Regions from separate parts of the Homo sapiens genome. Here region 1 is linked to region 2. Evidence: fine-mapped expression QTL. A gene starts in region 2. The other region holds a variant in brackets. All regions are shown on one strand. Distances are from middle to middle.

The links. PIP is the estimated chance that this variant, and not a neighbour inherited with it, causes the effect. A credible set is the group of variants that fine-mapping cannot tell apart.
Region 1: its variant is the best candidate, but not a certain one, in a credible set for the expression of SEMA5B in tibial nerve (GTEx, PIP 0.58).

Annotation. Positions count from the first base shown.
Region 1 is chr3:122,954,223-122,959,589 of GRCh38, reverse strand. The region is part of intron 2 of SEMA5B (semaphorin 5B); the gene reads left to right. Among named protein-coding and RNA genes, the nearest start is that of LINC02035, 70 kb to the right of the region's middle. The variant G/A (reference allele first, on the strand shown) is at 2,132.
Region 2 is chr3:123,024,504-123,029,870 of GRCh38, reverse strand. It overlaps SEMA5B (semaphorin 5B), which reads left to right and starts at 2,108. Exons shown (of 23, transcript NM_001031702.4): 1 at 2,108-2,407. RefSeq lists an enhancer at 997-1,504.

The DNA of each region.
Region 1 (5,367 bases), 70 kb after region 2:
TATTCTTCTTGTTTTCATTCCTTACCGTGTGTTGACTTACTCTGTTTGTAGGAGCAAGACCAGTCTCTATGATCACAAATACAGAAGATTATAGACCATGTTTATGAGATTTTCGCCATCTGCAAACATTCCCTGGAGTGGCCTGGGCTCCACCCACATGGCTATGTCAAATAATGTCATTTTCTAAATGGCTGTGTCCTGTGTGGTGTGCTGGCATTGAGTAAGGGGCAGACTCCTGAGCCCGACTGCCTGGGTTTGAATCCAGCTTTTACCAGTCTGACCTCATGCAAGTTACTTTTAACTGGTCTGTGCCTCAGTTTTCCCATCCACGAAATGGCGACGATTACAATACCCGCCTCACGGGGTTATTGTTTGGATTAAACGGCATAATATAAAGAGCATAGACCACTTCTGGGTACACAATAACATGGTTGTTATTGTTGTTGTCACTGTTACTTAATCCTACTATTACTTAGTCTCTGCCGCGAGCTCCCTGCCCAATCTTGCTGTCTCCTCCCATCCTCAGTTTCTTCATCTATAAAGTACAGTGCTGAACCATGTAATCTGTGTCAGAGCCCTTCTTGTTAAACTTTTGGTCATCACCTTGTTCCTTTTATCTTCCCCATTGCAGCTGGAGGGATGTGGGTGGGACTGCAGGGAGGACTGCCGGAACACTCATGACACACATGCGTGACTTGGAGGTTTCTAGGAATATATGGAAGAGAGAAGAACTCAGCCCAGATTGCAGAAAGCAGAGGCAGGGGATGAAGTTGCCCCTGGGAGAGGGCAAGGGGGTGGGGGTAGGAGAGGCTCCCCATACCCTCCCCCCATAGATTTTAGAGCTAAAAAGTGCTAGGAAGGCTTTCCTCCCTCTGCCTTGCCTCTCTGGTCCAAATCTTCCCTCTGGGCCCCAGTCCCCCAGATGGTCTAAAAGGGAAGAAAAGAGGAAAATCCGTATCAAATCTGCTCTATTCAGAGCAATGGGAAGGCATCTGCATCTCAATCTTATCTTTGTGCTGAGTTGGGCTAAGCTTGGCCCCACAAGTGGTGAGTGATGTGTGGGTGGGAAGATGCCTTCACCACCCCCACGGAGAAGCCCACTTGTGGGCCACCATACTCGGTGGCCCTGGGCAGGGGCAGGAGAGGGCTGCCCCCACAATGCTTTCCCTTCCTGCCAAACTGCAGACAGTACACATTCTTCCCTGCTCTTGGTTTCCCCTCTATTTCCTCTTCTTTTATTTTCCTTCTCTTTTTCTCCCCCTTTCCCAGGCAGGAAGCCAAGTGGAGACTTTGAATGGAGGCAAGGATGGAGGGGACCTGGGGAAGAGGACTGGCCTGAATCACCTTCCCCAAAGGTCCTCATGGACTGAGCTGGAGGTGGGGACTAAAGGAAGCATCGCCTTCCTTCCCACCCACCCTGGCCCCTGGCTGTCAGGCCTGGGCTGGGGGAAGCTGCCAGGTGGCTGTCATCACTCTGGGCTTGGGGCTCCAGAGTCTGCCCTCTCCATCTGGAACCTCTAGAATTTGTTTCTCTGGAGCCATTCAGGACCTGGGAAAAACTGCCTCCCACAGCCCAAATTCACAGGAGGCTGGTGTGCAGCAGGAAGTCAGCTTAATAATTTATAGCCAGAAAGCACTCTCCCTAGTAAGGAAGCCAACTCAGAAAACCAAATTAAACTGGGAGGGCTGCTTGGAGAGCACTTGGAGCCAGGGCTGTGGAATGCAACGATAAGGCTGGGGCCAGTTTGTCCTCCAGGGAGGATGGTGAGTGTAGCAGCCCAGGGTGTGGGCTTATGCAGCAGACAGTCGCGGATTCAAATCCCAGCTTCACTGGCAGTGGCAGGGGGACCTTGGGCAAGTGCCTCAGCTTCTAGAATGATGCTTATGTGGGCACCTCTTGGCCTTCTTGCAAAGCTGCTGTGAGATCTTGCAGGGAAAGAGCTTACTTAGCACAGTGCCTAGCATGCTGTCAATATGCTCCAGGCATTTGTACTCAAGCCCCCATCTTTTAGGGTCGTAGGTTGTCTTTTTCTTCCTGATGACACCCTTTCATGGTTTTTTACACTAAAAAGAAAAGAAGTGTGAGGTTACCCTGGAGAGGACCTCCTTGTCGGCCGCAGTATGAGTGGCC[G/A]TGCTGCTCCTGCCTGGGTGCAGCTCTGTGGGCCACACGGCTTCCAGCCTGATCCCTCATTCTCCCTGCTTCTGTCTGGAGCCAAGCCCCACAGTTGGACTGGGGAATTCTCCACAAGGCTGCAAATTGGGCTGAGATCCAGCTGCATTCTGGGTGCAAGACCAGCTTCCCAATGTCTAGAGTTGCCCTGCTGACAAATGGCCTGCTCTAATCCACCTGTCCCCTTGCTCACTGCCACCAAACTTCCCAAAGCATGCACAGATCTGACCACATCTTTCTACTGTCCCAAACTATCCACAAATCCTCCTCTTCAGCAGAGGGAAAACTCCTGAATCTTTAGGTTTGTGCTCAAGTCTCACTGTGATTTGGCCTCGGTCCTGCTTTCCAGACTCATCTCCCTCTCTGCCTCTCTCCACCAGCTTCTCCAGATTGTCCAAGGATAGGCCAGAGCCAAGTCTTTCCCCTGCTGTGCCCTCTGTCTGGAATGCTCTTCGCCCCTGATGGCTGGGGAAGCTCCACCCTTGTTCCCTTCAAGAGAGTTCCGCCTTCTACGTGAGGCCTCTTAGACACCCGCCTGACTGCAGCCCGTCACCCGCTTTCCCAGGACGTTTTTTCCCTTTTAGGGCACTCACATCAGCTGCTTCCCGCTGCTCTACCCATGCATCTGTCTTGCTGGACGTTGCAGGAGAGCCGGCCCGATGCATCCTCGTGCTGAATGGAATGGTACCAGCAACTCAGCTGCTACCCACCCCGGGGTGGTCTGGGCGATCCCCTGTCTGAAAACGGGGGAGGGTTCGGTTGTGCAGGGGGCACCTGTTGGGAGACTGGTTTGCGCTCTGTGGGGGAATTCAGCTCTGATACACACTCTCTTAGCCTCTGTCTCCGTCATCCTTCGCCCCTGAGCAGAGGGCACCGGTCGCTGTGTAGCTGCAGGCCTCTTGATTGCTCCGGCCTTGGCTCCTGCCCCCACTTCTCTGCGCTCCTTCACTGTCACTCGCCAATTTCACTCACTCCCCCTGTTACAGCAAACCCTCTTCCTAATCTCTGTGCTGGGAAAATGAGCCCAGGAGAAGTCCCATACAAGGTGGGGAGGCCTCAGGGGGCGTGTGCATGGGCGTGCATTCTCTCACACACATGCGCGTGCATTCACACGCCTCCAGGCACCATAAGAGTGACCCCAAACCCAGAACCCACAGGGAACTGGGACAGCAGCGTGAGAGAAGGCAAGAGAAGCTCTGGCCAAAGATTTGGGAAAATGCTTTCTTCACTGCTGAAGATTTCCCAAAATAGCAGGAGTTGGCTGGTGCTGCATCTCCCCTCCCCCACTCCTAGAGCACCCTGCCCCAGCTCCAATGCCAAGCAGGCCCGAGGCAGGGCAAGGCACTGGCCATCTGTGCCCCCTTCCCCATCCAGACCCGGGGCCATGGGTCGCTGTCTGTGCTCACTGGAGACATGTCTCCTCTCCTCTTTTAGACTGTAAGCTCCTTGAAGGCAAGGACCATGGTTTTGTCTTGTGAACCTCCCTCCTCCCCGCTTTCTCATCTATACAGGGCCCAGCACATAGTAGGTGTTCAGTAAATGCTCAGTGAAGTATTATGTAAATGAATGAACAGATACTTAGGTAACTAGTGGAATATGTTTTACATATACTAGTAAACTAATATTAATGGATTTCATAAAGAGCCTACTCGGTACCAGACTTAGTTCTGGGTGTATCAAAGCAGTCTCTCTAAGCAAGAAGCTATTAACCTTATTTCACAGGTGATGAAACCAAGGTTTGCAACCAGGTAGAGCAGCCTCCCAAGCTCAGGGCTTTCTATGATACTATACAACCCTCGGGATAATTGGATTGGCTATGCACTGCTGGTGGGGAAATTCTGGAATTATTTTAACATCAAATCAGACAGACGTGTTAGAAATAGAAATTTCTGTTTGTCTTGGGAGTATTTGGTTGTACGTATGAGAAACCAAACTGTATGGGATAGGAATTATATTTAGTTAATATAATTGAGATGTGAAAAGCAAGGGCTTAAACTAGTTGAGACTGTATTATTCGCTAATAATAATAGCACTTATACAATGCCTACTTTGTGGCAGATGCTGTTCTAGGCCTGTTAGATAAAAATAACTTATTTCATCTCCACAACAGCTGTGAGCTGGGTGTTATTATTCTCCCCATTTTGCAGAGAAGGAAACGAGAGACACAGCAAGCATAGGAAAGGAGTCTGGAGGTAGACAGAACAGAGCTGGCTCCATCTTCAACATTCCAGGTTCCACCTAGCTTAGCATATGGCTAAAGGTCACGTCCTTTGTTTTTTTAGAGACACGGTCTAAAAAAAAAAAAGAAGAAGATGATGACTACTCAGGTAGGCTCAACACCTGCAATCCCAGCATTTTGGGAGGTTGAGGTGATAGGATAGCTTGAGTCCAGGAGTTTGAGACCAGCCAGGGCAACACAGTGGACTCTGTTTCTACAAAAAAAAAAAAACAAAAAACAAAATTGCCCAGCCTGGTGGTATGTGCCTGTAGTCCCAGCTACTCTGGAGGCTGAGGAGGGAGGATCGCTTGAGCCTGGGAGGTTGAGGCTGCAGTGGCTGTGATCATTCCACTGCACTCCAGCCTAGGCGGCAAAGTGAGACCCTGTCTCAAAAAAAAAAAAAAAAAAAGATGACCACCCCACAGGGCCCATATTTTTCTGTTCCAGTTTCCCCTGCAAAGACTGACTTGATCTGCTTTGCAATCCTTAGCATATGGCTAAAGGTCACTTACCAGCTGCAGATGGCTACTGTGGCACCATTCCTCCTATCTGCCAACCACTCTGGAAAAAGGGAAGCCCTCTTAGAGCACGTCCCTGTAAGCCCCACTGACAACCTCCTCATTCATCTCATGGGCCACCTCTTCCTGAAAGACTAGGAAAAGTTTTGAGCAGGGCAGGTTGCCTCCTGCCCTCATGAAGCAGAGGCTCCTTTAGAAAGGAGGAAGGCGAGGACAGACTGAGGAGGCAATGCCTGTTGGCAACTCCTAGTCTGACACAACTCCAACGGGATTAAGTAAAAACGGGAAATTTTATTACAAGGGTCTGGGAGTGGGGGTGGCTCATGGAAGTAGAATGTATTTAAACCTCAGGAAAGGGCTGGAACAGGGAACTGGAAAGCTGTCAGCATGCCTCTGTCTCCTGTCACTGGTCTTTGTCTTCAGATTGTCCTCAGCTCACATGGCAGGTAGCAGAGAACTGC
Region 2 (5,367 bases):
CAAACCCCCTCTCCACTTTATAACATGGAGAGGGAGAGCCAGGAAAGGCCTTGACATGATAGTGGGAAGAAAAGAATGAACACAATCAAAACATGGTAGCAAACAAGAGGGCAGGTGAGAGAATGTGTGAAGGGTGGAGAATATTTTGGTTATCTTTCAAGGGAGAGCTGTGGCTGACAGAGCCACTCAGAAGGCATTTTGTCTATTCTCCCAACCAGACAAATTGGAAGCTCTCCTGTTCATTCCCTGGTCCTGCAGTATGGAATAGCTTCGTGGTTTTTTGTGTTAATTAAAAGGTATCTCTATATTGCACATACTTCTATTTTTTGTGATGACAAAAACATTCCCCATGGCTCTGCAGGGAATGGGGGTTGGGGGGGGGGCACGCTCATTGCAGTGGAAAGGTTCCACGGTGGAGATCAGGAGACCTATCCCTATCTCAGCCTGGGACTCTGGGAGAATGGTCCAGAGCTCATTGTCCTTGTTGATAAAATGATAGATTTGGACTCAATATCCCATGCTGCCTCTTCCAACTTGATTTTTACCCCAGACTGGGCTACCAGACTGGTATGCCCACACATGCCCGTTTCCTTTCTTTTCTTCTCTGCATCTCTGCCTTTGTGTCCAGAGCGTGTTTTCCCTTTGCAAGTTTCTCTCCATTCTGCACATTATGAGTTTCAGCATTTCTGTTGCCCTAGAAAGTCTATCTTTGAGATCTTGCACTGTTTCTCTTTTTACAGTGTCTCATAAACTCCCTTCTTGGATTCAGAACCACCCTTTCTTTCCCATTATCCTGTCAAACTGCTTCTTGCCATGGTCCAGGGGTAGGAGGATGGCAGGCAGGAGGTGCTTCTCTGGGGCTCTTAGTGTCTCAATTCTTCTGCTTTATCTGGGTTTTCCTTTACCCAGAATTTTATTATGTAAAATGCTTCACTCAGACTTTGTTCTAATTATCCAATTTTTGGCATACTCTAGAAAGTCTTTTGATATTTTCCTTCCTCCAACTTATCTATTTTTATTTCATAGTTCTCTTTGGTTATCTCTTAGAATCACACTTTCCTGGTTTTAATTTTTCAAATCCTTTGTCTTTCTCACTCGTTCTTAGGTCACCTTTTTTTACATTTTCAAATATATTTTTTGTTCAGCAGAGGGCTCCCTTCCCATCCCTCTTGCAGCCCGGGCAGCTAGGATTTGAAGCTTGCCCCTTGAATCTTTCTCTCCCGCCTTCTAGCCATCAGAAACACTAGATCACTTAAACTTGTAAACAATTCGGCCTCGCTCCTTGTGATTGCGCTAAACCTTCCGTCCTCAGCTGAGAACGCTCCACCACCTCCCCGGATCGCTCATCTCTTGGCTGCCCTCCCACTGTTCCTGATGTTATTTTACTCCCCGTATCCCCTACTCGTTCTTCACAATTCTGTAGGGTGCGTATTACTAACCCCAGTTTACAGCTGAGGAAACTGAGGCTTGGAGAGGTTCGCTCGGTATCGTACAGTTTGCAAGGTTAACCCTAATCCGGCCAGTTCTGGCTTTCCAGCCCAGCCCAGCAGCCTAGCCTCCCTCTCTGCCGCTGCAGGTTATAACGGCTCTCCCCCGTTTTACACGAGGTCCCTTCCCCTTCAAATCCACAGGCAGGAAGATCGTTCCGAACTGACGGGGCTGGGGAATGTGGGAGTCCGGAGTGGGGTTTGGGGGAGCTTCCTCAGGCCCTGAGTGTTGGGGTGGGCAGGCCGCGCCGATGGCCCTCGGGGATGTCACATTCGAGATGGGGTGACCGAGAACGGCAAGGCGGGATGTGGCAAACGGCGGCAAGTGCTCGGAGTCCTAGGTCTTGCCGCCGGAATGCCGGCCGGGGAAGGGGCTTCGGCCCACCGGGCTGGTCACCACACTCGGCAGGCCCGGGGCGGGAGTCGGCCGAGCAGCCGCGGGATGCAGGGCGCCCCCTCGCGCTCCTCCGCGCGCCTCGAGGCTGGCGGGTGCAGCGCCCGCCGCGGCAGGTCTGCTCCAGCCCCCTCCTCTTTTTCGCTCCCGCTCCCCTCCTTCTCTCCCTTTGCTTGCAACTCCTCCCCCACCGCCCCCTCCCTCCTTCTGCTCCCGCGGTCTCCTCCTCCCTGCTCTCTCCGAGCGCCGGGTCGGGAGCTAGTTGGAGCGCGGGGGTTGGTGCCAGAGCCCAGCTCCGCCGAGCCGGGCGGGTCGGCAGCGCATCCAGCGGCTGCTGGGAGCCCGAGCGCAGCGGGCGCGGGCCCGGGTGGGGACTGCACCGGAGCGCTGAGAGCTGGAGGCCGTTCCTGCGCGGCCGCCCCATTCCCAGACCGGCCGCCAGCCCATCTGGTTAGCTCCCGCCGCTCCGCGCCGCCCGGGAGTCGGGAGCCGCGGGGAACCGGGCACCTGCACCCGCCTCTGGGAGGTGAGTCCCGGGAGCCCCGGGCGCTTCCCCTGCGCGGGTTGGGGCTGCAACTTGCAAACTTCAGCAACTCGGGTGGGTATCGGGGTAGAGAGGTAGGGGTCCGGGCTCTGGCAAGTTGAAGCCAGGTAGGTGAGGCTGCGGGCGGGAGGACAGGGGGTCCCCTGGCTTCCGCGCCTCCCGCTGCCACCTCGGCTTGAGAGCCCTCATCGCTGCTGCGTTCCCGCCGCCAGCCAGCTTGGGTCCGGGTTGCACTGGGCCCTGCCAGGGCTGTGGTCGGCGCATCTGGGCTGCAGCGGCGATGGGGACCCGGGACCCAGGCCTGGAGAAGGAGACGGACGAGTGAGGCTGAGGGACGGAGGGACAGAGGTGCGGAGATGGAGGCTCAGAGAGGGCCGGCTAGTAAACAGCACTGAGGGAGAGTGCGGGCGGCGAGGCGCGTGGGAACGCGTGGCCCGCCCAGAGTGTGAAATCTCCCGCTCAGGGACGTCCCTGCTCCACCGCCGCCGCCTGCGGAGCCGCCGCCCGGATTCTTCCCAGACCCGCCTCCAGGACACTCTTGCCCTGACCAGGCCTGCGGAGCGTGAACTCTGCCCACCAGGCTCCAGGGGCAGTGGCTCAGGGCCCCGCACTCCCGGCTGGGAGGGTGGAGAGGGGTGCGGCAGCTGGAAGCAGGGACGCGAGCGGCGATTTCCCGATTTATGTTTCTCATGGTAATTTGTCTTTGTGGTTGGGGCTGCCCATTCACTTTCCGCTCACGTCCTGCGGGAGATCCAGCGAGGAGGGAGGGAGCGGGGGGCGCTCGGGCACAGAGAGGGATGCAGACGGGAGAGGGGATCGGGGACCCGCGCGGGGCGGGAGCCAAGAGGGAAGTGGTCGCCGGACCGGCGGAGGAAGAAGGCGAGGCTCGAGAAAACCCGGCCCAACGGAGCCGACTCCTTTGCCCACCGCAAACTTTAAACAAGGAGGAGGATCACCTGCAGCGCCGTTCTGGCCCCCTCCTCCCCGCCCCCGCCCCCCACCTCGAGCCCAGTCTTTGGGTAGTTCCGACTGCCCGCCGCGCCAGGCGGGAGTGGGCCGAGAGTCTGGATGGGGAGAGAGGAGCGCTGGATTCTGCCCGCACCCCTGCGATCCTGCCCAGGCTTTCTGCAGAGGGGCGGGGTGAGAGCAGCAGGAGCCGGGAGGGCGGGCTACCCTGGCATGCACTCCTTCCCGGCCAACGGAATTGGGACTGAGGGTTTGGAAGCTTGCCTGTGTCTAGACCTCACCACGATCCTACCTTCTCTGGCCCTAACCCCATCTTTTTCCTTCAGCCCCTAGTGAATCCGACCTCCTTCCGCTTTTCTCAGGCACCCCAACCCACTTCGGCCTCGGGGCCTCTCTCCACAGCCCTCCCTGCCTGCTTGCTCCTCGGCCTCCCCACTTCAGCTCATCTTTTTAAGCCTGTTCTCTTCTTGACAATCAGCAGTGGCCTCTCACCTTTTCTAAGCCGGGACAGATGACCTTGAGGAAGGGGCAAGAGGGGAACTTGAACCTTGTAACTGGACCTCAAGATTACGGAAAAGGGGGGCAGATTTGAAAGCAGCTTGGAAAGAAACAGCCAGTACCTTTCCCGAAGTCTAGATTTTCAACGGAGGAGGAAAGGAGATAAAATATAGGAGAGATGGGGGAACTTGCCACTTGGTCACTCATGGGGCGGTGAGAACTGTTCTGGGCCTTGGGGCGTGGGGGTAGACCACTCGGGGCAGGGCTGCCTCTGGCTTGCTGTGTTGGGAAAGGTGTGTGTAGGTGAGTGTGGGTTTCAGGGGGAGCTCTTTTCTCCATATCAACACCTATCACCACCAGTTTGGGAAGGAATGGCAGATCTTCCATCCCTTTTCTTTTTCCAAGCAGCCAGTGCCAGAGCCTTCCTCCTCCAAAGCCAACAGTAGCGACCATAATCATCACCGTGGACATCTAACACTGTTTAAGCACCTACTATGTGCAATGCACCATGCTAAATGCTGGTAGATAAAAAGAGGTACAGGGCCGAGCCCATGCCCAGAGAGGTTAGTAAGTTCACCAGTTTGATCCTGAGACACTTGTCTATGTGTTTGGGGAGGGAGAACATGGAGAGGAACATGCAGTGGCTGTACAGGCAGCAAGGTGCCTGATGACCCAAGGGTTTAGGAGAGGAAGGGTTAAAAAAAACTCGATGACTCAGGTGGGACAGAGAGCTGGGCTTATTGACTCTGCCCTGAGATAGGACAGCCAGCACCTCCTTTCCCACTAGGGAGGGGAAAAAGTTCCTTTACCACTTCTAGTGCCAGACTAGAAAACCAGAGAAGCCGAGAGGTCCAGCCCAACACTGTAGATTGCTACCTCCCCATTAGGACTGGAGGAGCCCCAGAAACTTTCTTGTCTTAGGATGAACTTCCTGGCTTGTTTGAAAGACCCTACAGTGGTCACTTCTTATTGAGACTCAAAGCTGGGAGAGGCCCTGGAGATTGTCCATGTCAGGGGAAGCACAAATTCAAATGCCTACAGAGGGCAGGCAGGTCACAGTGTGTTGATCAGGCAATTAGAGTGGCCCAGCTTATGGACAATTGGGAGTTCAAAGCCAAACTGGCCAAGTGAAATGATCCTAACAAAATCAATTAACAGCCTTTAAGTAGCCTGACCCCTTATATCTATAGATAAAGATATTAAGATTCTAAGAAGTGAGCTCATCTGCCTTGGATATACATGTTATCTTGTCTCCCTGTACCTTGGGGATTGACTGGAATATCTCATGGCCTGGTTCTACCTCTGACCTGTTGGGCCCTTGGCTCACCCTCATTCTCAGGGCCCATTAAGATTCTTCTGTCAGATGATAAGTTCCTTGAGGGAGCCATCTTGTTTTACTCAAATCTGAGCACATCACATCCATTGATATAAGGTTCCACATGCAGAGCAAAGACTGGATTCAGATCTCCTGTCCCCAT